Regions from separate parts of the Homo sapiens genome. Here region 1 is linked to region 2. Evidence: fine-mapped expression QTL. A gene starts in region 2. The other region holds a variant in brackets. All regions are shown on one strand. Distances are from middle to middle. Region 1 overlaps PLA2G4A (phospholipase A2 group IVA). Region 2 holds the start of PDC-AS1 (PDC antisense RNA 1).

What was found.
Region 1: its variant is fine-mapped to the expression of PDC-AS1 in lung (GTEx, PIP above 0.99).

The regions. Positions count from the first base shown.
Region 1 is chr1:186,884,680-186,896,667 of GRCh38, reverse strand. PLA2G4A (phospholipase A2 group IVA) reads right to left here. Exons shown (of 18, transcript NM_024420.3): 4 at 3,509-3,657; 5 at 2,457-2,570. Among named protein-coding and RNA genes, the nearest start is that of PLA2G4A, 62 kb to the right of the region's middle. The variant C/T (reference allele first, on the strand shown) is at 6,050.
Region 2 is chr1:186,428,607-186,440,594 of GRCh38, reverse strand. It overlaps PDC-AS1 (PDC antisense RNA 1), which reads right to left and starts at 5,434. Exons shown (of 5, transcript NR_126002.1): 1 at 5,306-5,434; 2 at 4,022-4,237. It also overlaps a transcript of ODR4 not described here.

The sequences.
Region 1 (11,988 bases), 460 kb before region 2:
TCTAGCCATAGGAAATGACAGAGGAGAGGAAATGAATGTTGTCCACAATATCTTCTCTCAAAAACAGTCTTTGTATCATGAACTAAAGTGAAGAAAGAAAAGAAAAATGATTTCAGGAGGTCCAATCCATGCTTCCAAAGCCCTCAACAGACATTTACTGAGAGCCTATGCTAGAAACATGCAATAACTAAGGCCTGAAGATTTTAGCCTTTGACCACCTCTACACTCTCTTCCCTATGATTCAGCAAAATGGATCTGCCAAGCCCTTTATCTTGCTATGCCCCAGCTTGCTTTCTTCTTTCAAGACTCTGGCCTTCAGCAATCTGTTCTGCCCAGAATGCTCATAACTACTTTACTGATGAAATCCTGCTCTTTTCTTAAGGTGTAATAACAGCAACAATGACAAGTAACATTTATATAGTGCCTAATACGTACCAGAAACTGTTCTAAGCCCTGTATGTATACATGTGCACATCTATATGTGTATAGTATCGATATATTTAATCACTTATTTTAATTACTTTATAGTATTAACATACTTTTAATCACTTTCAATCACTTATTGAATTATATGCTTAATATATAAACTAAATAATATGTCAGTATATACTGAACCATAAAATATATCAAATTATAATTAAATGTATTCATATGTAATATACATTATATTATATATTATCATATGCATGTATTATATATACATAAATAAAATTAACTTGCTTAATCATAATGATTCCCTTAGAAAATATTATTTCCATTTTACAGATGATTAAACTGAGGAACGGAAGAGTTAAGTGTTATTTTCCCAGAATAAAACAGATGGCAAGGAACAGAACTGGAATTTAAACACCAAACAGCCTGTCTTTCAATGCCAAAGTGTTAACCACAGTTCACTGTTCAACTTGTTCAAAATCAGCTACTGCTATGGAGGCATCCCTAGCCTCCTCTCACAACACAATCGTTCTTTATTCTGCCTTCCCATAGCACTCTATACATGTCTCATTGGTACTTATCTCACTGTCTGGGGATTTCTTTTTATCACACGTATGTATCTCCCTACTTCCACTTCTCATTTCAACCTTTACTCACCTCCTTCCCAGAGGGAGATAATTGAGGGAAGAACTTCCTGTACCTTATTCTCTATATTCCTTGAACAAAACACAATGGCTGGCACACAGCAGATCTTCAATAAATGTTTGTAAAAGGAATGAATGAAATAGCTTTAAAAGGGGTCGACAGAATTGTGGTGAGTGCATCTCTTGGCATGAGACAGAAGAAATGCTTTCTGCAGCAGGTGGAAGCACCAAGGAGTGCATGGACCAGAGCATCCTCAAGGTACCTGGGCCATTCTGATTGCATGGACTAGTCAAGAAGCTCATTTGGGCTAAGTTGGTTTCTAAATAGGTACACATTCATTCCATAAATGTCATCTATGTAATTAATTCTGTAGGCACATTTAATCAGTATTTCAAGTTTCCTGACTTAGAGGATTTTAGTTTACAAGAGGAAAATGAAACATTGAACAGTATAAATAATGTAGTCCCAATGAATACCATAGATAATTATCATGGAGACTCAAAGGAGGAAGACTCATTTGGGACAGTAACAGGAAAGGCAACATGGAGAAGCTGAGAGTTAAGGGAGAGGTAGGTTGAGGTGAATGTAGGGACTTGGAAAGTCATTCTAAAGATGCGCAGAGACACATTGTCTCTCCCAACAACAAGAAATTAGTATGGTAACCAGCCTTACACATACAGGCCCACCAGTTGTTTACATTTCTTACTACAAACTACTAAATTAGTTTCTTACAGAATTCAAAATCCAATGAGTTTATTCTGTACAAAATTATTTACCTAAGGTTTCATTATTCCAAAATAAACTATCAAAATTTCAGAAATGTAGCAAACCTAGAAAGTCAAAGATAACAATAACCTCCCATCAATCCTTTTGGCCTTTCACTGCTTTGTCCCTATTTACTTGAGGATTCTCTGAGACAGAAATATTCCCCCAGAGAGATTTATTACTAAACATGTGGTTTTGGAATAGTCTGAATTTCCTAACATTTTCCACTGAGTTTGTTTACTTGTTCTCTCTCTCTCTCTCTCTGCCCCCAGCTCTCAGATTTTGCATGTCTTTTTATCCTCCCCAATTTTTTGTATTAAATTTTGCCATTAGAGTCCAAAGGCATTGCTGAATCCCAATGTCATCATTTGGAGCAACAAAGGAGATTAAAGCCTTAGTAGTGTTTGGTATAATACCTCAACCAAAGTTTATAGATGTCAGAATAATTTTTAAAATTAGGACAAAAAGTAAAAAGAAAAACAAAATTTTCTCTTTAAAAAGCAAACATTCTATGAACAAATAAATACAATTTTCCAAGTGTTAAACCCAACTTCCCAGAATCAATAGACTTTATCTAACATAAGGTTGGAATATAATTCTGCAGTGTTACTTACTTGGTTGAAAATAAAAGGAACTTCTTTCTTTTCTCCCACCTTCATAGAAGATACAGTAAATGTTGCTGTCCCTAGAGTTTCATCCATGACATAATTGGCATCCATTAACGTAATCTACAGAGTAAAATGTAAAGCACAAAAATAAAATTTCCCATGGATCTTTGGAAATGACATCTATAATTTCCACCACATTTAAAAAAATGAAGCTCTCAAATGATATTTAAGAGTCCTTGAAGATCTCAATATTTAATTAGTAACAATACTTTTATCTTTTCCTTTTTTTTTTTTTTTTTGAGACAGGGTCTCACTCACCAGGCTGGAGTGCAGTGGCGGGATCTCGGCTCACTGCAACCTCCACCTCCCAGATTCAAGCGAATCTCCTGCCTCAGCCTCCTGAGTAGCTGGGATTACAAGCAAGCGCCACCACATCCAGCAAATTTTTGTATTTTTAATAGAGACAGGGTCTCACCGTGTTGGCCAGGCTGGTCTCGAGCTCCTGACCTCAAGTGATCTGCCTGCCTTGGTGCTCTGAAAATGCTGTGGGGTGAGCCACAGTGCCCGGCCAATCTTTTCCTTCTGAGTACTGTGTTTGCTATAAGATAATAATTTTTCACATTTTCCTGATTGATTTATTCAATTATCATGTTTTCAAAAACGAAACTTTATCTCCTCTCTACTTTGGAATATGAGAAAGATATTAATGCAGAAAATCGATACAAATATTTTGGGAAAAATTAATTTTCACTTTTTAAAAAGGCAATTTAAAATATTTTTATTCTGTTATACTGGGATTCTCTCCTTGATAGCAGAAAATATGTTTTCTCCAAAGCACGTGGGGAGGACAGCAGTTTTCCCAACCCTACCTAACTCCTGTATGTCCTGATAGACACTCATATTACTTGACAGACACCATTTAGATTCTAGTCTACCAAGCTGCCCAGTCTAACTCCAACTATAGCTAACAGGAACAAAAAGGCAGTAAAAGGACAAACTCAAGCATGTCTCTCAACATGAATCACAACCATCTAACAGCATCCAAATGGTTCACTTACCTCCAAAACATTTTCCTGATTAGGATCCAAAATAAATTCAAAGGTCTCATTCCACACAGGGTTTATGTCATTATTGAAATGTCTTGTTCTCTTCCTGCTGTCAGGGGTTGTAGAGATAAAAAGTTCCACATAGGGATCTGGAGTATCAACTACAGATAGTAAACACAAACAAGAAGGAGGTAGAAATGTGATTCATAGTTCCTAATTTTTTTATTAATATATGTTGTCAGTTTATTCTCAATGAATCTGTAGTGATGTATTTAAATGTCTGAGACAAGATAATATACACATAATAGAAAAACATCATAGGGTAGATACTTTTTACATATGTCGCTGTCCTTCATAATAGTCCTGTGAGAGGGAATTGTTTATTAAGTGATTTATTCAGAATTCCTCCATCTATCTAGAGAGGACAGGTTCAAAGCAGTCAACATCTCAGTCAAGCTACTACAGGATGATAACAATGTCACCCAGCTAACGCCAACATGACCTTCACCCAGGACTGTGATAGTGACAAGATCATGGGCTTAAAGCTAGAGACAAATGCACAGACCTACTGTGAACTCATTTTTGACAAAGGTGCCAAGAACATACACTGGGGAAAAAACAGTCTCTTCAATAAATGGTGCTGGGAAAACTGGATCTCCATATGCAGAAGAATGAAGCTAGACTCCTATCTCTTGCCATATACAATAATCAATAAAAATGGATTAAAAATTTAAATGTTAAGATCTCAAAATATAAAACTACAACAAGAAAACATTGGGGAAAATCTCCAGGAGAACAGTCTGGGCAAAAATTTCTTGAGCAATACCACACAGGCACAGACAACCAAAGCAAAAATGGGCAAATGGGATCACATCAAATTAAAAAGCTTTTTTGCACACCAAAGGAAAAAAAATCAACAAAATGAAGAGACAACCCACAGAATGGGAGAAAATATTTGCAAACTACCCATCTGACAAGAAATTAATCACCAGAATATATAAGGAGCTCAAAAAACTGTAGAAAAACATCTAATAATGTAACCAACAAAATGAGCAAATGATTTGAATAGACATTTCTCAAAAGAAGACATACAAATGGGAAACAAGCATATGAAAAGTGCTGAACATCATTAATCATAAGAGAAACGCAAATCAAAATTACAATGAGATCTCATCTCACCTGGATAAAATGGCTTATATCCAGGCAATAACAAATGCTGGCAAGGATGTGGAGAAAAGGGATCTCTTGTATAATGTTGGTGGGAAAGTAAATTAGCACAACCACTATGGAGAATAATTTGGAGGTTCCTCAAAAACCTAAAAATAGAGCTACCATATGACCAAGCAATCCCACTGCTGAGTATATACTCAAAAAAAAGGAATCAGTATACTGAAGAGATATCTGTACTCCTGTGTTTATTGCAGCACTATTTACAATAGCTAAGATTTAGAAGCAACCTAAGTGTCCATCAACAGATGAATGGGTAAATAAAATGTGTTACATATACACAATGGAGTGTTACTCAGCCATAAAGAAGAATGAGATCTCGCCATTTGCATGGATGGAACTGGAAGTCATTATCTTAAGTGAAATAAGCCAGGCACAGAAAGACAAACAGCACATATTCTCACTTATTTGTGGGATCTAAGAATCAAAACAGTTGAACCCATGGAGGGGGCAGAAGGATGATTACCAGAGGCTGGGAAGGGTAGTAGGGGGCTGGAGGGGAGGTGGGGATGGTTAATGGATACAAAAAAAACACAACAGAAAAATGAATAAGACTTGCTATTTGATAACACAACAGGGTGACGATAGTCAATAATAACCTAATTGTTCACTTAAAAGTAACTAAAAGAGTGTAATTGGATTATTTGCAACAAATCATAAATGCTTCAGAGGATGGATACCCTATTCTCCATGATGTGATTACTTTACACTGCATACCTATATCAAAACACTTCACTTACCCCATAAATATATACACCTACTATGTACCCATAAAAATTAAAAAGTAAAAGTAAAAAGTAAAAAAGAAAAAAAATTGAAAAATACTTTTTTTTAAAAAAAAGATTATATTTGTCAATGTTAGAAAAATCATCCTGCTTACTTTATCAGATAAAATAATGGAAGTCATTGTGAGAAGAATATTGTTTATTGTTATAGAGTTGCCTTGTATGGTTGTACAGGTTGTACACTGAACAACTTTAAGGGGTGGCACTCATATTAAAAATCAACATGTATTTATTATGGCAATATTCAGATGGAAATGAGGTGTCTCTATGAAGCAACAATTTTTTTCTTTTCCTTTTTTTTTTTTTTTGAGACAGAGTCTTGCTCTGTTGCCAGGCTGGAGTGCAGTGGCACAATCTCAGCTCACTGCAACCTCGGCCTCCTGGTTCAAGCAATTTTCGTGCCTCAGCCTCCAGAGTAGCTGGGATTACAGGCACATGCCACTATGCCCGGCTAATTTTTGTATATTCAGTAGAGACAGGGTTACACCATGTTGGCCAGGATGGTCTCGATCTCCTGACCTCCTGATCTGCCCGCCTCAGA[C/T]TCCCGAAGTGCTGGGATTACAGGCATGAGCCACCATGCCCGGCCAGTAACGGTTTTTTCTATTTCACATAAATACCCACTTGAATCAGGGTATGATATGTGTGCCCACTGAAATAGAACAAAACAATTGCAAATAAAGAAATTATTTTAATTTCCTCCCATTACATATACACTTAGCAACAAAGCGAGTGACCCAAACTGTGCAAGTATTGATCACTCCTTTTTTAGGATTCCACCGAATCCTTTAATGTCTTACAGCACTGGACACACTATACTTTATGGATGAAATTATACATCTATCTGTCTTTTCCTACAAGACTATAAACAACTTGAGGGCAAAGATCTTGTCTTCCTCAGCTGTACATCTTCAGAAGCTAACAACAGAAAGCGACAATTACAATATTTAAGGTTTCCTAACCTATCGACTTGACTTTCCCGTTTAACAGGTGCTTTTCCATGCGGCCATTATAATTAATAACAAAAACAACAAATAACTAAGTAATGACTACAGGGATCTGTGTTAAGTACTTTACACACATTAGTCTCATTTAAATCTCACAATCGCGCTATAATGTAAGTACTTTATTTTAGTGTTAAAGTAACAGGAACTGAGAAATATTAAGCATTCTGTCCAATATCACATAGCTAATAAGTATCAGGTCAAGTTCTTGAACCTGGGTCATTTGACTACAACAATCATTCTCTTATTACATCATGTTCCTCAGTAACAAAAATTAGATTACAGGGTATGGATTCTATGGAAAGAGGAGCTGGAATTAGAGGAAGAGAAAGAGAGGGTGAGTGCAAGAGTGAGGGAGGGAGGGGGGAGAGAAGAAGTACAGAGGTCTAAACAAAAAGATCCAACAGTTGAAAATAAAGGAAAAGCAAAAATAATAGTTTCTGACCTATTGATTGGGTTTCCCCCCCAAAAAAATTTAAATAGATGTTGTCTGTCAACAACAGCTATGGTCATCAAAAAACGTAATCAATGTCTTTCACTTAATTGTTCAGTATTGCTCCTAGTTCTTTATGTAGTCATCAGCTTCTTTAGATGCATGTGTATGTTTAGTGGTTGTTATTATAAAACGGGAGGATCTACAAACAAGGTATCAGCCTTTGAGGCTGCCTTTAATTTTCCGGCTTGGACCTTATACATCATTGGTAAAGAGCAGTGGGGCAAAAGTGAGAGTGCAACACAAATGCCCAGGGTTATTGTAAAAACATAGACCCCGACCTTCATCCCCGAAGACCCATTGTCTGCATATCTGTAGTGGAATTAAGGGCTTGCAATTTTTAACAAATAGTCTAGCTGACACTGATGTGGATCATCTTCTGGTCACACTTTTGATATCCTATTTTAGACAAAAGGGGAAAGCCAGTCATTCTCATTTCTAACTCAGTGCTTATAACTCTCAACAGGACCATGGAATACAAATTAGAGAACAAAAAGATTGAGTGGGAAGGATGATAAGGTGAAATGGGCCAAAGAAGAAGAGAACATGTCATAGGGTAACATTATCACATTTTCAACCAGGAGGTGACTGCTTCTTTTCCTTAACCATGTTTCTACCATATCACCAGTGCTCAGGATTGCAAATCAGAAGTAAAACTCCATATTTAGAATAGCAGTTGGTAGAAAATTATCAAGAAAAATATGTAATTTTAAGGAAAGTATTCAATTAATGCTTCAAATTATGTGTTACAAAACATAGCCCTACATCATCTCATAGGGCCAGATTTTTCTCATAAGGCCAATGCTCTTTTTTTTAACCATTTTCCAAGAAGTAATAGAAAAAAAACAAAGCCAAGCAAAAACCAACGTGGAATACAAGAGTGTGTGGGAAGGGGAGGCATGCAAATGGCAAACATCATTCATTCATTCAACAAATACATGAGTGCCTACTATATGCCAGGCATTGCTCATTCACAAGCAGTTCAGCCTTGATAGGGAGCCAAACACTAAACTGAAAATTCGGATTATGGAAGTGAGTCAAATGTTAATAGCCTAATTTTAGAGGCAAGGTAAATTGAAGATAAGCAGTTACACTACCCCAGTGACTAGTAACTCAGTCACCCAGATTATTACACACAAATAAGGTCAAATCGTAGGTGGGGAAATTGCCTTTTCAGACTTAATCTTTACTTGAATCTTTGGGAAAGAGGAGGGTGAGGTCTACTTGGCCCAAACAAGAAGGAGCAAGCTGCAAGTGAAGTTCCTTGGAAGGCACCAGATGGGAAAAGGAAAGGACAAATTGAGAAGCACCATGAGTCAAACCATTATCTACCCATCTTCTCAGCCATTTTAGATTCTCAATGGGTCATATTTTTAACAAATTCTAATTCTGACAAAATGATAAAGAAAATACCATAAAAACAATACCCACACCATGTTTATATATTAAAACATCCACAGACTTTGTTTAAAAAATCAGAATCCAGTTTAATAGCTGTCATGTTGGATTTGCATTATTTAATTTTACTTTGAAAGTAAGTCAGCTTTCTAAAATGTATGTCCAGAGTGGCAGCGTTTCTAATTTCTCCTCTTGATTCTTTAGCCAGAGACTTCAGAGTTAAGATGTCAAAGGATGCTGGACAGTGGAAAACTACCAAAACTGCACACTTTGATTTTGCAATCTGCATCAGCTCTAATCATTGTAAGCTAAGAAATATCTATAACAGTGGTAGATAGGATAAAAATAAGTTTTAAGAGGCTAGTTTAAAGTTGGATTACAATAATCACATAGCTCAGTTTCTTTGCATAATCTATAACCATCACTGGCATGGTAGCAAACAGAATTAGAAGATTTGAAAAGGAAGGCAGCCCACTTTGACAGTAAACACAGCCCAATACTTTAGAGAAGTTTCAAGGAATGAATTAAAGAAAAAGTTAAATGTAGAATTTGTTTTTTCCTGTACATTATACTTATTTCATGGCTTTGTCAATTAACACCTATAGGGCAATTGCGTGTTGAGTCACTAACTCAGCCTCATCTTCATTATTTTCAGCCAAACATGTGGTGAAGCAAAGATGTAATATGTGGGCAAAAACCCCTTTTACATCTCATCCTTTTATCTAAATCTTGACAAACAAAAAATGTCGGGGGTGTGGAATACAGATCTTTTTTCTTCCCATAAAGTTGACATGAAACTACATGCACCAGAAATAGCTTCAGGGTGGTAAAACTTACTACTAAACTTCAGGAGTTTAAGGAGCGCCTGCCTGAAGTCATAACAGACCCATTTGTCATTTCAGCTTTGTCCAAGTAATATATCATGTGATTCATGAACTCATGGCAGCTTCTAAACTCCTAGCTCTATTTTAAATATTCTCTATTTGCCTATTTCCCCTTCATCAGTAGCAACTTAAACCTCTTGTTTGAAAAACAGATTACAAGTAATTTGTTACAATTCTTGTGATAAATAGGAAAAAAAAAATCCCAAAGGGGAAAGTCCTCCCAAATGTGTAGTCAAAATATGGCCCATTCTGAATACCTATGGTTCAATGACAGTGAGCTTAAAACAGTGTTTCCCCAAATGTAGTCCATTGAAATACCATGACCTTCACGGATTCATCTGCAGTGCCGTTAAAAATGCAGAACCTTAGCACCTTCAATCATATTCTCCAGCATGGGCCTGGAAATCTGCATTTTGACAATTGACCAGGTGATTATTATTCAGACATTTGAAGAACAGGGGCTTAAGGTATAATATTACGAGGAACTAAAGAACAGGAGTATAATAACACCCACAGAAAAATTACAAACATTTTGACATTGAGAAGGCAACAAAGTTACTGTTCTTCTGTCAAGGAGTTATTCTGCCCATAGACTAGATTAAGCCCAGTCCAGTCATTTACTTCTATTTCTCTCCAGACATAAAATACATTTTCAAATGGCCACGAGAAAATAAATGCAAGAATAAATTAAGTGTGGGTGTGTTAGTTGGCAATCTGTTTAAGGTGATGGACTGCTCTTCAAATGTTATGCTTCAATTATCAACAAAGTAGAAATGACTAAACGAGAAGAAGTAAGACCAAAACTTAAATGAAAATTTGTTGAACGAAATGCCTCTGAATACTATTCTCAGATGTGGTCATTCCTTTGATATATTTATGATGTAATAACATTGCTAATTACACACAGAGATCTTAGAGCAGCTTTTACGATTGTCAACCTTTTCGCTACCCATGTACTAAGCTGGTTGAGGTATGAGGTAGGAGTTAGGATTCAGTCTTTTTCCCTGTGTAACCAATAGACCCAGCATTATTTATTGGGAATACTGCCTTTAGCCCTTGCATTGCAGTATAAACTTTGCATTAATCAAGTGGTCACATAAAAGTGTAAGTCTGTTTCTGGACTTCGTTTGTCTATTAGTCCATTAATCTATCATTTAAGCTTGCATCTATACCACGCCTATACCAAACTGTCTTAATTATAATATTTTTATATTAATTGTAATATCAGGTAGTCTAAGTCCTGGAACTTTGTTCAATATCTTCAGGATTATACTGGCAGTTGCTTTATTTCCACACCTCAAAGATGTCAACTAATATCTTATGGTTCCTCTCTGTTTTGTTGAGAAATCCACTCTTGGTCATTTGCTTTTCAATATATTTTATTGGCTACAGAAAATACCCAGCCATTATATTTTCAAATATTACTTTTGCCCTATTCCCTCTCTCTTCCCAATGCTTTTTGTCATACCCCAGATATTCCTTAGCTTTTTATTCTATATTTTATTTCCTTATTTGTCTTTTGTGTTTCAGTCTGGATATTTTCTATAGACTTATTTTTCAGTTCAGTAATTCTCTCTTTAACTGTTTTCAAACTACAGTAAAACCATCTACTGAGTTCTTAATTTCTTGTGTTTTTCAGTTTAAAATTTTCCATTTGATTATTTTGTATATATCTGGTTTCCTGGTAAAATCCTCCATCTTAGCATCTATTTTCTTGAACATATTACTCTTAGTTATTTTAAGATCCATATCCAATACTTGTGGATCTGTTTGTTTCTTGATCTTATTTTTGTTACACTCATATTCTATAAGCCGCTGAATATTTATAATTCAGTCAACCTTTGACTGAATGCCAGACTTTTTTATGACAAATTATGGAAGAGCTAGATCTACCTCCACAGATGACCCACTTTATTCTCTGGCAGGCAGAGAAAGTAGGACTGATAGCCTCTATTGCATTTTAACAAATGAATTGATTTCATTCTTTGTAAGGTTAGTCTACCTCTTGTTCACTCCCACTCTAAGGCTCCCAACTTAAAGTCAAGGGTATTTATTAGGCCCCTTTTAATTTGGTCTCTCTGATCTCCTTGTTTGTTTGTTTGTTTGTTTCCTCTTATGAGACTGCCAATATCTTTGTCCTGTTTTTCAGGTTTTTATTTTTGCTTCTCAGACTGTTGCCCTGCATGAATCAAGAATTTGGCTAGTGCCTCGTGATGAAGGTGCTGGCTGTCAGGCATACTTCTTCTCTAGGCTTTCTCTCAAGGAACTTGGCTTCTCAAAATCAACTTATTTTGTCCTAAAATCCAGTCTTTATACCCCAAGTCCTTTGAGGTTGACAAAGCTCTGCTGGATTATTGGCCTCTTCACTGCTTGGCTACTTCCCATATCCCTATCACTCCCCTCCAACCTACCTAGATGCAGCTAACTAATAGACTGAGGGAAAACGTGGCTTGCAGAATATGAGCTTATTCCTTCTTTTTTTTTTTTTTTTGAAGACAGGATCTTACTCTGTCAACCAGCCTGGAGTGCAGTGGCACCATGGTGCCATCTCAGCTCACTGTAGCCTCAACCTCCTGGTTTCAGGTGATCCTCACACTTTAGCCCCCTTCCCCAAGTAGCTGGGACTACAAGCTCACACCATCATGCTCAGCTAATTTTTTGTGTTTTTAGTAGAGATGGGGTTTTACCATGTTGTCCAGGCCTG
Region 2 (11,988 bases):
GAGGAGGAGGAGAAGAAGAGATCATTATTGTCTCAGCAAAAGGATGATGTTTTAAATGTAAAGGCTTAAAATGTCATAACATGTCTCATAACAAATCACCCAAATAATAACTGGAATGGACTTGAAGGAAAAGCCAAGAGTGTTAGCTGTAAACTAATAGGAAACTTTGGAGGAAATAGCAAAATTATCCTGTAAAGTCAGAAGCTCATTCATTTATTTGTTCACAACATACTTATTGATAAGATGCCATTTAACAGCCAGTGTCCTTGATCTCAGAGATCTTAAGGTAAAGAAAACAAACATCAAACAAGCAATCAAAGATAAACGCATCGGCATTTGTATCCATGTGTCTATACTGTAATGGTGGTTAGTATCTTGAACACCAGATCTCCTAAGTTTTAATTCATTCACTGATTTCATGACTTTGGGCAAATTAGTTAACCTCTCTACTGTTTCCTCATCTGTAAAATAAGAAAAATAATAGCACATGTTCATTGGGTTGTTGTGAGGGGAAAAATGAGTAAATTATGTAAACTAGAGCAGTACCTGACACTGACATTACTCAAATGTTAGTTTTCATTATTATTAATAGATATACATGAAGTAAAATGGTGCATACAGTACACAGATATACGATTTTAGGGATCTGCTTATGTAAATAAAAGTTAATTTATTAAGAAGTTGGGATTCAATTAATCTATGCTAAACACACCACTCACATTTCTCTGTATTAGAAACTTATTCAAACTTTCATGTATGTGAATTGAAAGAGAGAAGTCCCAAAAAACTGCCATTTCAGAATGACTGTAGATACCACAATAAGCAAATTAAATTAAGTCTGAAAACAAAATAAAGTTTAGCACATAAATAAGAAATTCATTTTGAAGTTTTATACTGAATGTATTATAGAATAAAATTTAATCGTATACTTATCTATTCAAATATATCTAATACATTATCTCATGATACAAATTTTATATATTTTTGTTCCCTTTCAAACATTCTACAAATGTCTGAGTGTCTAATACATACAAGGAATTATGTTAAATAATAGAAGAGATGATGAAAATGTATAATATAATCATTCTTTCTTTTCAACAGATTTACAGTCTAAGAGGGGAGCACACATTTCTTAAATTAAAAGATATAGTGACATTTTAATTTTACTTATTTATTAATGTTGAGATCTTATATTCTGGAACCCAGCTTATACTGGATTTCCGTGAAGAAACTGTCATCCACTCATGCCCCTCTGATTAACTAACATATTCTGGCATGCAGTTCTTCTTTTTACTTTTACTGCCAACTTCCCTTCAATTTCAATATACCATTCTCTGATGATAGTCATCTACCCTTCCAGTTCTCTCAATTCATTTTTTTCTTTTCTTTTTTCTTTTTTTTTTTGAGACGGAGTCTCACATTGTCATCTGGGCTGGAGTGCAATGATGGTATGATCTCAGCTCACTGCAACCTCCGCCTCCCAAGTTCAAGCGATTCTCCTGCCTCAGCCTCCCGAGTAGCTGGGGTACAGGCGCCTGCCACCAAGCCTGGCTAACTTTTTTAGTAGAGATGGAGTTTCACCATGTTGGCCAGGCTGGTCTCGAACTCCTGACCTCAAGTGATCCACCCGCCTCAGCCTCCCAAAGTGCTGAGATAACAAGCTTGAGCCACCGCACCCGGCCCTCTCAATTCTTTTCTACCAAACCACACGTTGTTTAAGACCTGCAATTTCTCAGCCTTGCCTGTTTGACACTGCCTTTCTCCACTTTCCCTGTTTCTATCCTTCCTGTGCAGCCTAAACACTTGACAGATGTCATCAATCACCTTCCTGCTGGCACTTCCCCCATTTTTATCCCTTTATTCTTCCAAAGCACTTATCGTTTAAATCCCCAAACTTCCAATCATTTCAACCATCTGATCTCTCTTTTCCTAACTACTAGCTGGTAAGTCCTACTCAACAAAATTGTATCTTCCTCAAAATTTCATACATATATCAACCAATCAGTGCTCTTCAACTGGGGTCCATAGCTTGTTCTGCAAACAGATCCCTCTTCCGTTTCCCACAGCAGCTATTCCAAACCTTCATTATTCTCCTCAGTCTCCCTCTCCTACATCCTTAAACGACCTTCTTTCAACATCCCAGTAGACACTGAGCCCACCAGGCATGAACTTCCCTAATTTCTTACCCCACATCTATTAACTCAGCTATTTTCCATTTTATTGTTCTCAAAGATGTGTTTCTATGTGAGACTAATATTGTCATCTGTGCTTTTAATTGGATTATAATACATTCAAATTTCTTTTTTATTCATATTACAGTTCTATCCCCTCCATGTTTTTTATTCACAACCTAAAAACAACTTTCTATCTCTTATTTAAAAACTTGTCTTGGTTCTTCCAAATTATTACTACCTATTGTCTCCAGTATTTTCCTTCTCTTCTTCATTCCCAAAACTCCTTGCAAAAACAAACAAACAAAAATTCAATTTTTCTTATTTAATCTTCTTCCTTTCTTTCCATTTATTTTTCCACCTATCTGCCTCAACTATTCCACTGAAAGTGGTTCTGATACAGATCAGCAATGACCTCTGTGTCAGGCACGTCCCTGGAAGGAAACAACACAAACAGAAAAGGTATGATTGAAGGGAGTTTAAAGAAGACTATTTGCACATGTATGTTTATTGCAGCACTATTCACAATAGCAAAGACTTGGAACCAACCCAAATGTCCAACAATGATAGACTGGATTAAGAAAATGTGGCACATATACACTATGGAATACTATGCAACCATAAAAAATGATGAGTTCATGTCCTTTGTAGGGACATGGATGAAGCTGGAAACCATCATTCTCAGGAAACTATCTCAAGGACAAAAAAACCAAACACCACATATTCTCACTCATAGGTGGGAATTGAACAATGAGAACACATGGACACAGTAATGGGAACATCACACACCAGGGCCTGTTGTGGGGTGGCGGGAGGGGGAAGGGATAGCATTAGGAGATATACCTAATGTTAAATGGCCAGTTAATGGGTGCAGCACACCAACATGGCACATGTATACATATGTGACTAACGTGCAGATTGTGCACATGTACCCTAAAACTTAAAGTATAATAAAAAAAAAAGACTGTTTACAAGGGTCTAGGCAGGAAACTAACAAAAGATAGTGAAGCACCACCTATTAACAGGTGAAAGTGACTCCTACCCACAGGCCTGGAGGGGGCAAGAAACCAGTGAGACCTGCAGCTATAGGAAAAAGCTGCCCAACAGGAGCTTTTGCTTTTGGAAGAGAAACACTGCCCCTGTCACTCTGTGGCCCAGGAGGGACAGAGCTTCAGGGAAAAACAACTTGCACTCTCTCCTCGTGCTCTTCTATCTCTTTTCAGAACCTTTCATTGTCAGAATCCAGCTGAAAGCCAGAGGACAAGAGAACCCTGTTGATGAAGTCTGTTAAGTCAACCTTCTCTAGGGATAAAACAGGATGGAGAAAGATAGAACGTGAATTTTAAGAAGCAAATGGAGAATATCCAATACACCACCTAACCACCAAGCCTGTTAGACTCAACAGTCCTCATCTTACTTAACTTTCGGCTACATTGAATGCTGATTACCAATCCCAAATTGAAATTCTTTCCTCACTTTGGTTTTCATAATACCACTCTACAGATTCTTCTCTGCTTCTGTGACCGGGGGCATGCATGCTCCTTGTCTATTGGTGTTTTTCTGGATTAGTCTCCTCCCTCACACTTCAGATGCTGTTATTCCCTCTGACGACTTCAGGTACCATCTACACCGAGGCTTCTGAAAATCACCACTGTTTACATTTTGGACCAGATAATTATTTGCTGTGGGGAGTTGTCTTGTGCATTATAGTATGTTTAGCAGCATTCCTGGCCTCTAACCAGTAGATACTATTAGCATCCCTCCCTCAGTTGCAACAACTAAAACTATCCTCAGACATTGCCGACTGTCCTCTGGAAGGTAAAAATCATCCCCAGGAAAGAACTGCTTACCTCTACATACAGAATATGTATCTTCTGTCCTGAGTTCCAGGCTGATGGAAACTTAATTACCATCATCTGTCTCCTGGACAATTGCAATCATTTCCTAAGTGGGCTCCACAACTCCCAGTTTTCATGCTCACATCAGACTGATCCAAAAAAGACTGTGAATGTGTGAGGGAATCCCAAGGCTGTCAAGCCATGCAGCTGAAAATATTCTTAAAACATCTACGAGACACATGAAAAGAAGTGGAATTGTAAGAGTTTTTGACTTACACTCTGAAACATTTGGGGATGTAGATGCTCTTCTTGATGACCTATGACTTGTGGGAGTGAAGTAGCTCTGTACAGAAATATTGTACCTCCCATTACAGGAAAAGATATTCTTTCAGAAGAAAGTAAACTCAACAGCAGCATTTCTCTAGTCAATTTTCAAAAGTTTGGTCTCTAACTGGAAGTTTAAAACGTGAAAAGAGTATAATGACTAAAATGGTACGAACATATATTTAGATAAAAATATGCAGGCTCTATGACAAAACAGTTATCTTTTACAACAATTGGATTTGAAAAAATTACACACACAATACACACACACACACACATATATTATATACACAAACAATAATCATTTTAACTTGACTTTTCAAGATAGGTGCTACTGCAGTAACTCCTGTGCTTTTAATAACAAAAATTTGAAAAATCATTTAAGAACAAATACATTTGTCATAGGTAGTTGTTTATATGCCTTGCTATGAAAATAAAGTACCTCATGAATAAGTTAGATATTGCATTCCTGAAACATATATAAAAGTCAAATACTATGTATGTTCATAATTACTAAAGAATTGATGTAAAGACAGTATAATCCATGCTGTGGAATAGCTTTGTTGCACCAAAGATAGCCAACATTTTTATGATGTGTTATGTTACATAATTATTTCACATACATTATCTCACTGGAAGAACTACGAGACACAATTGCTCTATGAGGTAGGTAGAACAATGTTTTCAATATGTCCTCCTCAAGGATGACAAAATTGAAGTGTTTGTGGTTAGCTGACTAGTCCAGGTTATGCAACCAGGAAGATATAGAGGTTGAATTTAACCTTGGGCCTCCCATCCCTGGTTCCTGTGCTTTTCATATCACAGCATACTTCATACTGGCAATCATCAATGCAAAGAATGCATTAACAAAAAAATTCAGGATTATCTAAGATTAGAAGATCTACCTTAATATATTTCAGGCCCATATATCGATTCTGCAGGAAAAAAACAAAAACAAAAGAACAAAGTTACCTGGAATCCAGAGAAAGCTTCGGTTAAGTTCCACAACTCTAACAACTAATACAGTGGGTAGGACTCTGGCAGAGAGAACAAAGCAAAGTATAAGGTAATCTCAGTTTTCAATTATGGATATTCATTATTTGGGCAATAGCATTTAAGGAAAACATTTAATTTTATCTTTACTTGAGGCTCTCACCTATAACAGCTGTCAAAGTCTGTTCATCTTTCAGGGATTTTTTTACATAGTATAAAAGAAAATGCTCCTAAAAATTAGTTTTTCATAAAATAAGGTGTTTCACCCTAGGTTATTTTATTTCTTAGAGCGTTCACTCCCTGCTTCCAATAATTGAACACAGACTAGCTTGAATTAAACATGCTATATCAAAAACATTAATTCATTTTTAAAGGTTTACATATATTCATTGCTAACAACATACAATTATTTCCCCTACAGGGTTCCTGTTATAACAAATCAGATGCACTTTCAATAGGCAATAATAATCACACATGAAATTGAACTTTCCGGGTAACTTGAATTACAGAGACTTACATAATAAACTGTGTAAGTCCCACAGAAGTTTAGAAGAATAAGGCCATGGCTCTACATTACATTTATCTTTTATTAAAAATAAATAAAGATGTCATTTTTGCCAATCATTGTATCTCCAATTTATTTTTTCCCTTCTTCAAGCATTTCCAGAGAATGAGGATTTTTAATTTTCTTTTTTGTTGCTTTTGTTTTGGTAGGGAAATGGAAAGGACTTTTAAACCTCCATTTGGCTTTCTCTGAAGGAGCAGCAAGGAGTTTCTATTTGAAACCAGAGTTATTTTACCATTCTTTCCAGTTCCAGAGTAAGAATTTAAAGAGGCAATCATTCCAAACATAATAATAGTAACAAAAACCATAAATGATTTCAATTTAACAGTTATGAGGTATATATTGTCTAATTAGACATTTTTTAAACCCAGGTATTGGCTATTCAAAAGAGATACATTCAAAACATAAGGATACAGAAAAGCAAGATGTAAAATGATGGAAAAACTATATCTAGCAAATACAATTCTTTAAGCAAGTATCAATTAATATCAGACAAATACATTTAAAGAGAAAAAGCATTATTAGATATAGAAATATATCTTATATACATAATATTACTTACATTATTACATAACTATAAAATGGTACAGTACCACTAGGATGATCTAAAAATTTTAAACATATATATGGCTAATAAAATGTCACAGAATATACATAGTAAAAACTGACAGACTACAGGAAAAAAGTGGCAATCCACCATCAGAAATTTCAGTGCAGTTCTTTGAACCTTTGCTAGATCGCGTAACAAAAAATTAGTATCTATGTAGATATTAACCACAGAATTAACAAGTTTGATCTAAAGGACATATTAAAAACACTGCAACTGGCCAGGCGCGGTGGCTCATGCCTATAATCCCAGCACTTTGGGAGGCCGAGGTGGGTGGATCACCTGAGGTCAGGAGTTCAAGACCAGCCTGGCAACATGGCGAAACCCGTCTCTACTGAAAATACAAAAATTAGCCAGGTGTGGTGGCAGGCACCTGTAATCCCAGCTACTTGGAAGGCTGAGGCAAGAGAATCGCTTGAACCCAAGTGGCAGAGGTTGCAGTGAGCTGAGATCACACCAGTGCACTCCAGTCTGCGCCACAGAGTGAGACTCTGTCTCAAAATAATAATAATAAAATAATAAAAATAAAGCATTGTAACTAATAATTAGTAAAGTAGCCACTTTTCCACCTCCAACACACAAGGAACATTTTCAAAAGTTAATAATGAACTAGTATACTGTAAGACAAATTACTCTTTAGGACCACAATGCAATTAAGTAGAAATTAATTACAAATATGTATTTGCTATTAATAATAAATACACATACATCTAAATAACTTCTGTGTTCAAGGAATAAATTATACTGGAAATCTGAAATTCTTAAAACTTAAAAAAAAATAAGAGTATTTTATATCAAAACTTTGGAACATCAAGAAAATATTACTATTAAAAACATAAATTACAAAAGAAGACTTAAAACAAATGGCCTGAGTTTCCAACTAAGTTAAGAAAATAAAGCAAACCCACAAAGTACAAACATAAGGAAATAAGTACATGCATAAATTAATATAAATTTTATAGATAGAATTCACATGCCAAAAATTGGTTCTCTAATAAGATTTTTAAATATCTGGCCGGGTGCGGTAGCTCACACCTGTAATCCCAGCACTTTGGGAGGCTGAGGCGGATGGATCTTGAGGTCAGGAGTTCGAGACCAGCCTGACCAACATGGTGAAACCCCATCTCTACTAAAAATACAAAAATTAGCCTGGTGTGTTGCCATGCGCCTGTAGTCCCAGCTACTCAGGAGGCTGAGGCAGGAGAATTGCTTGAACCCAGGAAGTGGAGGTTGCAGTGAGCCGAGACCACACCATTGCACTCTAGCCTGGGTGACAGAGTGAGACTCCGTCTCAAGAAAAAAAAAAAAAAATCTGCCAGATTCACTGCAGGGGGTGTGGTGGCTATGAGAAAAGCATAAATAAACAACATTAAAAAAATTTTTTAAAACACATGCTTAGATAGAGCTGAGATAAAAATGATATAAAATATTATGAGCAACTTAATGCCAACAAATTTGAAAACAAAAAAAATAGATTTCTAGAAAAATATAATTTACCAGAATTGATTTAAGACAAATAGAAAGTCTGAATAGCCCTGTAACCAGCAAAGAAACCAGAACAGTAGTTAACAAAATATTACCCCCCAAAAAAACACAGGGCCTAGATGTATTTATAAGTTAATTCTATCAATCTGAAAAGAAACATTATTTTACACAGGCTTTTTCAGAGAACAGAAAAGGAGAATAATTATCAACTCATTTTATTAAACTCATATAATCTTTGTACCAAAACTGGACAAGGGCAGTATGAGAAGGGAAAATTACAGGCTAATATTTCCACAAGTATGGAAACAAAAAATTTAAATAAAATATTAGCAAGTCAAATCCAACAGTGTATGTAAAAGATAAAACATGATCAAGTTGGATTTCTACCTGGAATATAAGGTTGGATATATAAAGCTCACAGTTTGTAGCTATAGGTTATGTTCCTACTGTAGCCTTAATGTCTTTAGTTGCTGGCATCAATACCTAGGTCCCCTCCCACCTCCAAGCCATATATGAGAAGCTACCAAAACTTGTTCCCACTGAGGTAATTACTCACTTAGGCTGAATGAGACAAATTCTTTATTAGAACCAGAATCTAACATCCTCAAAAACTATGAAACTGAACCCACCATGATTCTTAATCTTGCATTAATCACAATCAGTATCTAAAACATAAGCCCCCTACCAACTTTTCCCACTCCCTACTTCCTGCCCACTCCCAGCTTGCCCTTCGCCTTAATACTCTACTACACCATCCCCATGAAAGTCTGTACTTCCTTGCTCTCTAAAATCAGAATTTCCCTCTATTTTCAACCTTTTATCCAAGAATTCCTTCCACATCTTTGCCATTACTGAAATCTGCCTCTTCAAAGAGGGTACACTTTCTCTTTAAGCTTGCAAATGGTGATTTTGTATTATTTCAGAATTCAAATATCATTAGTGACACTATCCCTTACCCCAGATTATTCTTCTCATTGGCTTCCATAAAAATACTACATATCTTTTAGGGTCATGCTATTTGTATGTATCACTTTTTTTCCATCCTTGCAACTGACAAATATTGACCTTCTAATTACTCTACCTTTCTGCTTAAGTTTTGTGGCCATCATTAAACTAAATTTCTATGACCTTTTTTAATTTCAACTCATCTGTCTATTAGATAAGCCTCCCAAATATTGCTCTTCATTTTTTTCTATTCTTGAATCCGAGAAGACAAAGATTGCTGGGGGAAAAATACACAACTTAATCATGTGATTACTAACCTCAGAAGGATTTTTACCACTCTCTGGCAATTCCACGATTTTTCTTTGGCCACTTGATATTCCATTCTTTGCAATACTTCTTACAAATCTTTATTTTCATCATCCTTCACTCTTGGAAGATGACCTTGACAATTTTATAGAAATCTGAAGCATCAGATGAGATTATCTTCAACTTTTCACCAGCACACCTACAAGTCCGTATATATTTACACCTATTTTCTTCCCCCTCTGAGCTATTATGCTAGAAGAGGTGTTCCTTCTCTAAAGGCCAAGAGCCACCTGTGCTTTAAAGTGTATCCTCTCCAACATTCCAAAAATCTTATGTTTATGTTTTCTTAGTTGTGTACAGTCATCTATCTTGTTTCTACACGCTTAATTATTCCCTTTCATCAGTATGTTTCCCCTTAATCTGTATATGCACAGTAATATTTAGGCTTAGAAAATGACTTTCCTGAACCTGTTTCTGAATTATTAAAACAAAAAAAAAAAAAGGGAGGGAGGGTGACATAGAAATGAAAATACTTTGTAAACTGTAAAGCACTATTTATTGAGAGTTAGTGTAATGTTAGAATTTGTTCCCACTTAAAGATCAAAGGAATTAACTGACTTCACAAGGTTTTATTATTTTTCTTTTGGCAGATCTAGGAATATAACTCAATTCTCCATAATTATTAACTACTTATAATTAAAAACTAGAAAATATTTTAATAGTGCTAACTTGAAAGCACAGAAAAAAATATTAAAATTATGTTGGTTATTTTTGTTAAACACAGAAATTGCAGTCTAACATCTTAGCTTATTGACATTCAGAATTTTAATCATGGGGGTAGGCATCTGGTGTTTCTACAACTAAATTGGATTTGCCTAAAATAGAATCTAAGACCTGATTAAACTACCTTCATCTCTATCATTAAGTTCCTCTTCACCATTCTGTAAACAAAAAATCTCCTCAACAAATTGAGCAAGTTGAATAAAGGATAGTTTTCTAAAATACCAAGCCTTTTTAATTAAGGATTTTTGTACAGTGCTCTTCTGGGATCAGAAGTTCCATAGTACAGTACAAAATCTAGCTTCATTTAATGGTGTTAAGTAAATAAAATACCTATATTTTTACAAAGATGAAAAAAGAAGAAATAATCTACTTCTGATTATTAAGACAAAGATAATAGTTATTTACCCAAATATCTACTCTATGTGTCCTTATGAATAATAATCAAAGTCTATTTCTATTATATTAATACAATTTGAATCTAACAAATCTTTTCCCTACATACAATACAAAACTGTTATAAAAATCCAATGAAATAATGAAACTGAAACACTTTCAAAATGGCAAAAACAAACAACTGTAACTTCTAACTCTACTTTCATCCTTTGTTCTTAACAACTAACAAATCAATACCTATTAACATATTAATTTACCTTTTAATAAAATGTTATAAATTTTATGAGACCTCATTGACCACCTTTGATTAATATTCATTAACAGACTTGATATTTCCAACATAATTATTTATTAGGTTAAAATCAGAAATCAAGAACAACTTACCAGGTATTTATTATGCATTGGTTAATTTATATTTAGACAAATCTTTTAGGTAAGAGTCAGCAAACATAATGACATTATATTATAATAGGGCTTGATTATTCCTAGCTATGTTGGTGATATAGTCATGAACCTATTGACTATTGAGGATTGTAGGGGTAGGTAAAAGAAAAGACATTTTATTTGTCCCCAGAATTGTCACAGTGAAAAAGAGGAAGACAGAGGCACTGTAGTAAAAGACAGACTGCGATTAAGGGTCATATGTGGATTTTTTTTTGTAGTAACTATTTCTTTAGGGAACTCTTTTGTCTGTTCTTTCTCCTAAACATGCATATCTTATTTTATTGTAGTTGGCTTTATTGCATTTCACATATACCTCATTTTTTACAAGTAGAAAGTTTTTACAACCCTGCATCAAGCAAGTCTATCGTAATTTTTCCAACAGTATATGCTCATTTTCTGTCTATGTATCACATATTGGTAACTCTTGTAATATTTCAAACTTCTTCATTTTCATTGTCTTTTTTTTTTCTTGAGACAGAGTCTCAGTGTGTCACCCAGGCTCAGTGTGTGCACTCAGGCTGGAATGCAGTTGCACAATCATGGCTCACTGCAGCCTCGGCCTCCCAGGCTTAGGTGGTCTTCCCACCTCAGTCTCCCAAGTAGCTGGGACTACAGGCATGTGCCAACCACAACCAGTTAATTTTTGTTTGGTGTTGTTGTTTTTCTTTTTGTAGAGACAAGATTTCATCACGTTGCCTAGAGTGGTCTTGAACTCCCAGGCTCAAGTGATTTACTCGCCAAAGTGCTCGGATTATAGGAATGAGCCACCATGCCCAGCCTTATTATATCTGTTACAGTGATCTGTAATCAGTGACTTTGATGTCACTATTATAATTGTTTTGGGGTTCCATGAACCATGCCCATATAAGATGGCAAACTTAATTGATAAAATTGTGTGTGTTCTGATTACTCAACCAATCAGTCATTTCCCTGTCTTTCTCCCTATCCCTATTCTCTGAAACACAATATTATTATTATTAGGCCAGTTGATAACCCTACAATGGCCTGTAAGTGTCCAAGTGAAAGAAAGAGGTATATGTCTCTCACTTTAAACCAAAAGCTAGAAATGATTAAGCTAAATGAGGAAGGCATGTCGAAAGACAAGACGGGCTGAAAGCTAAGCCTCTTGCAACA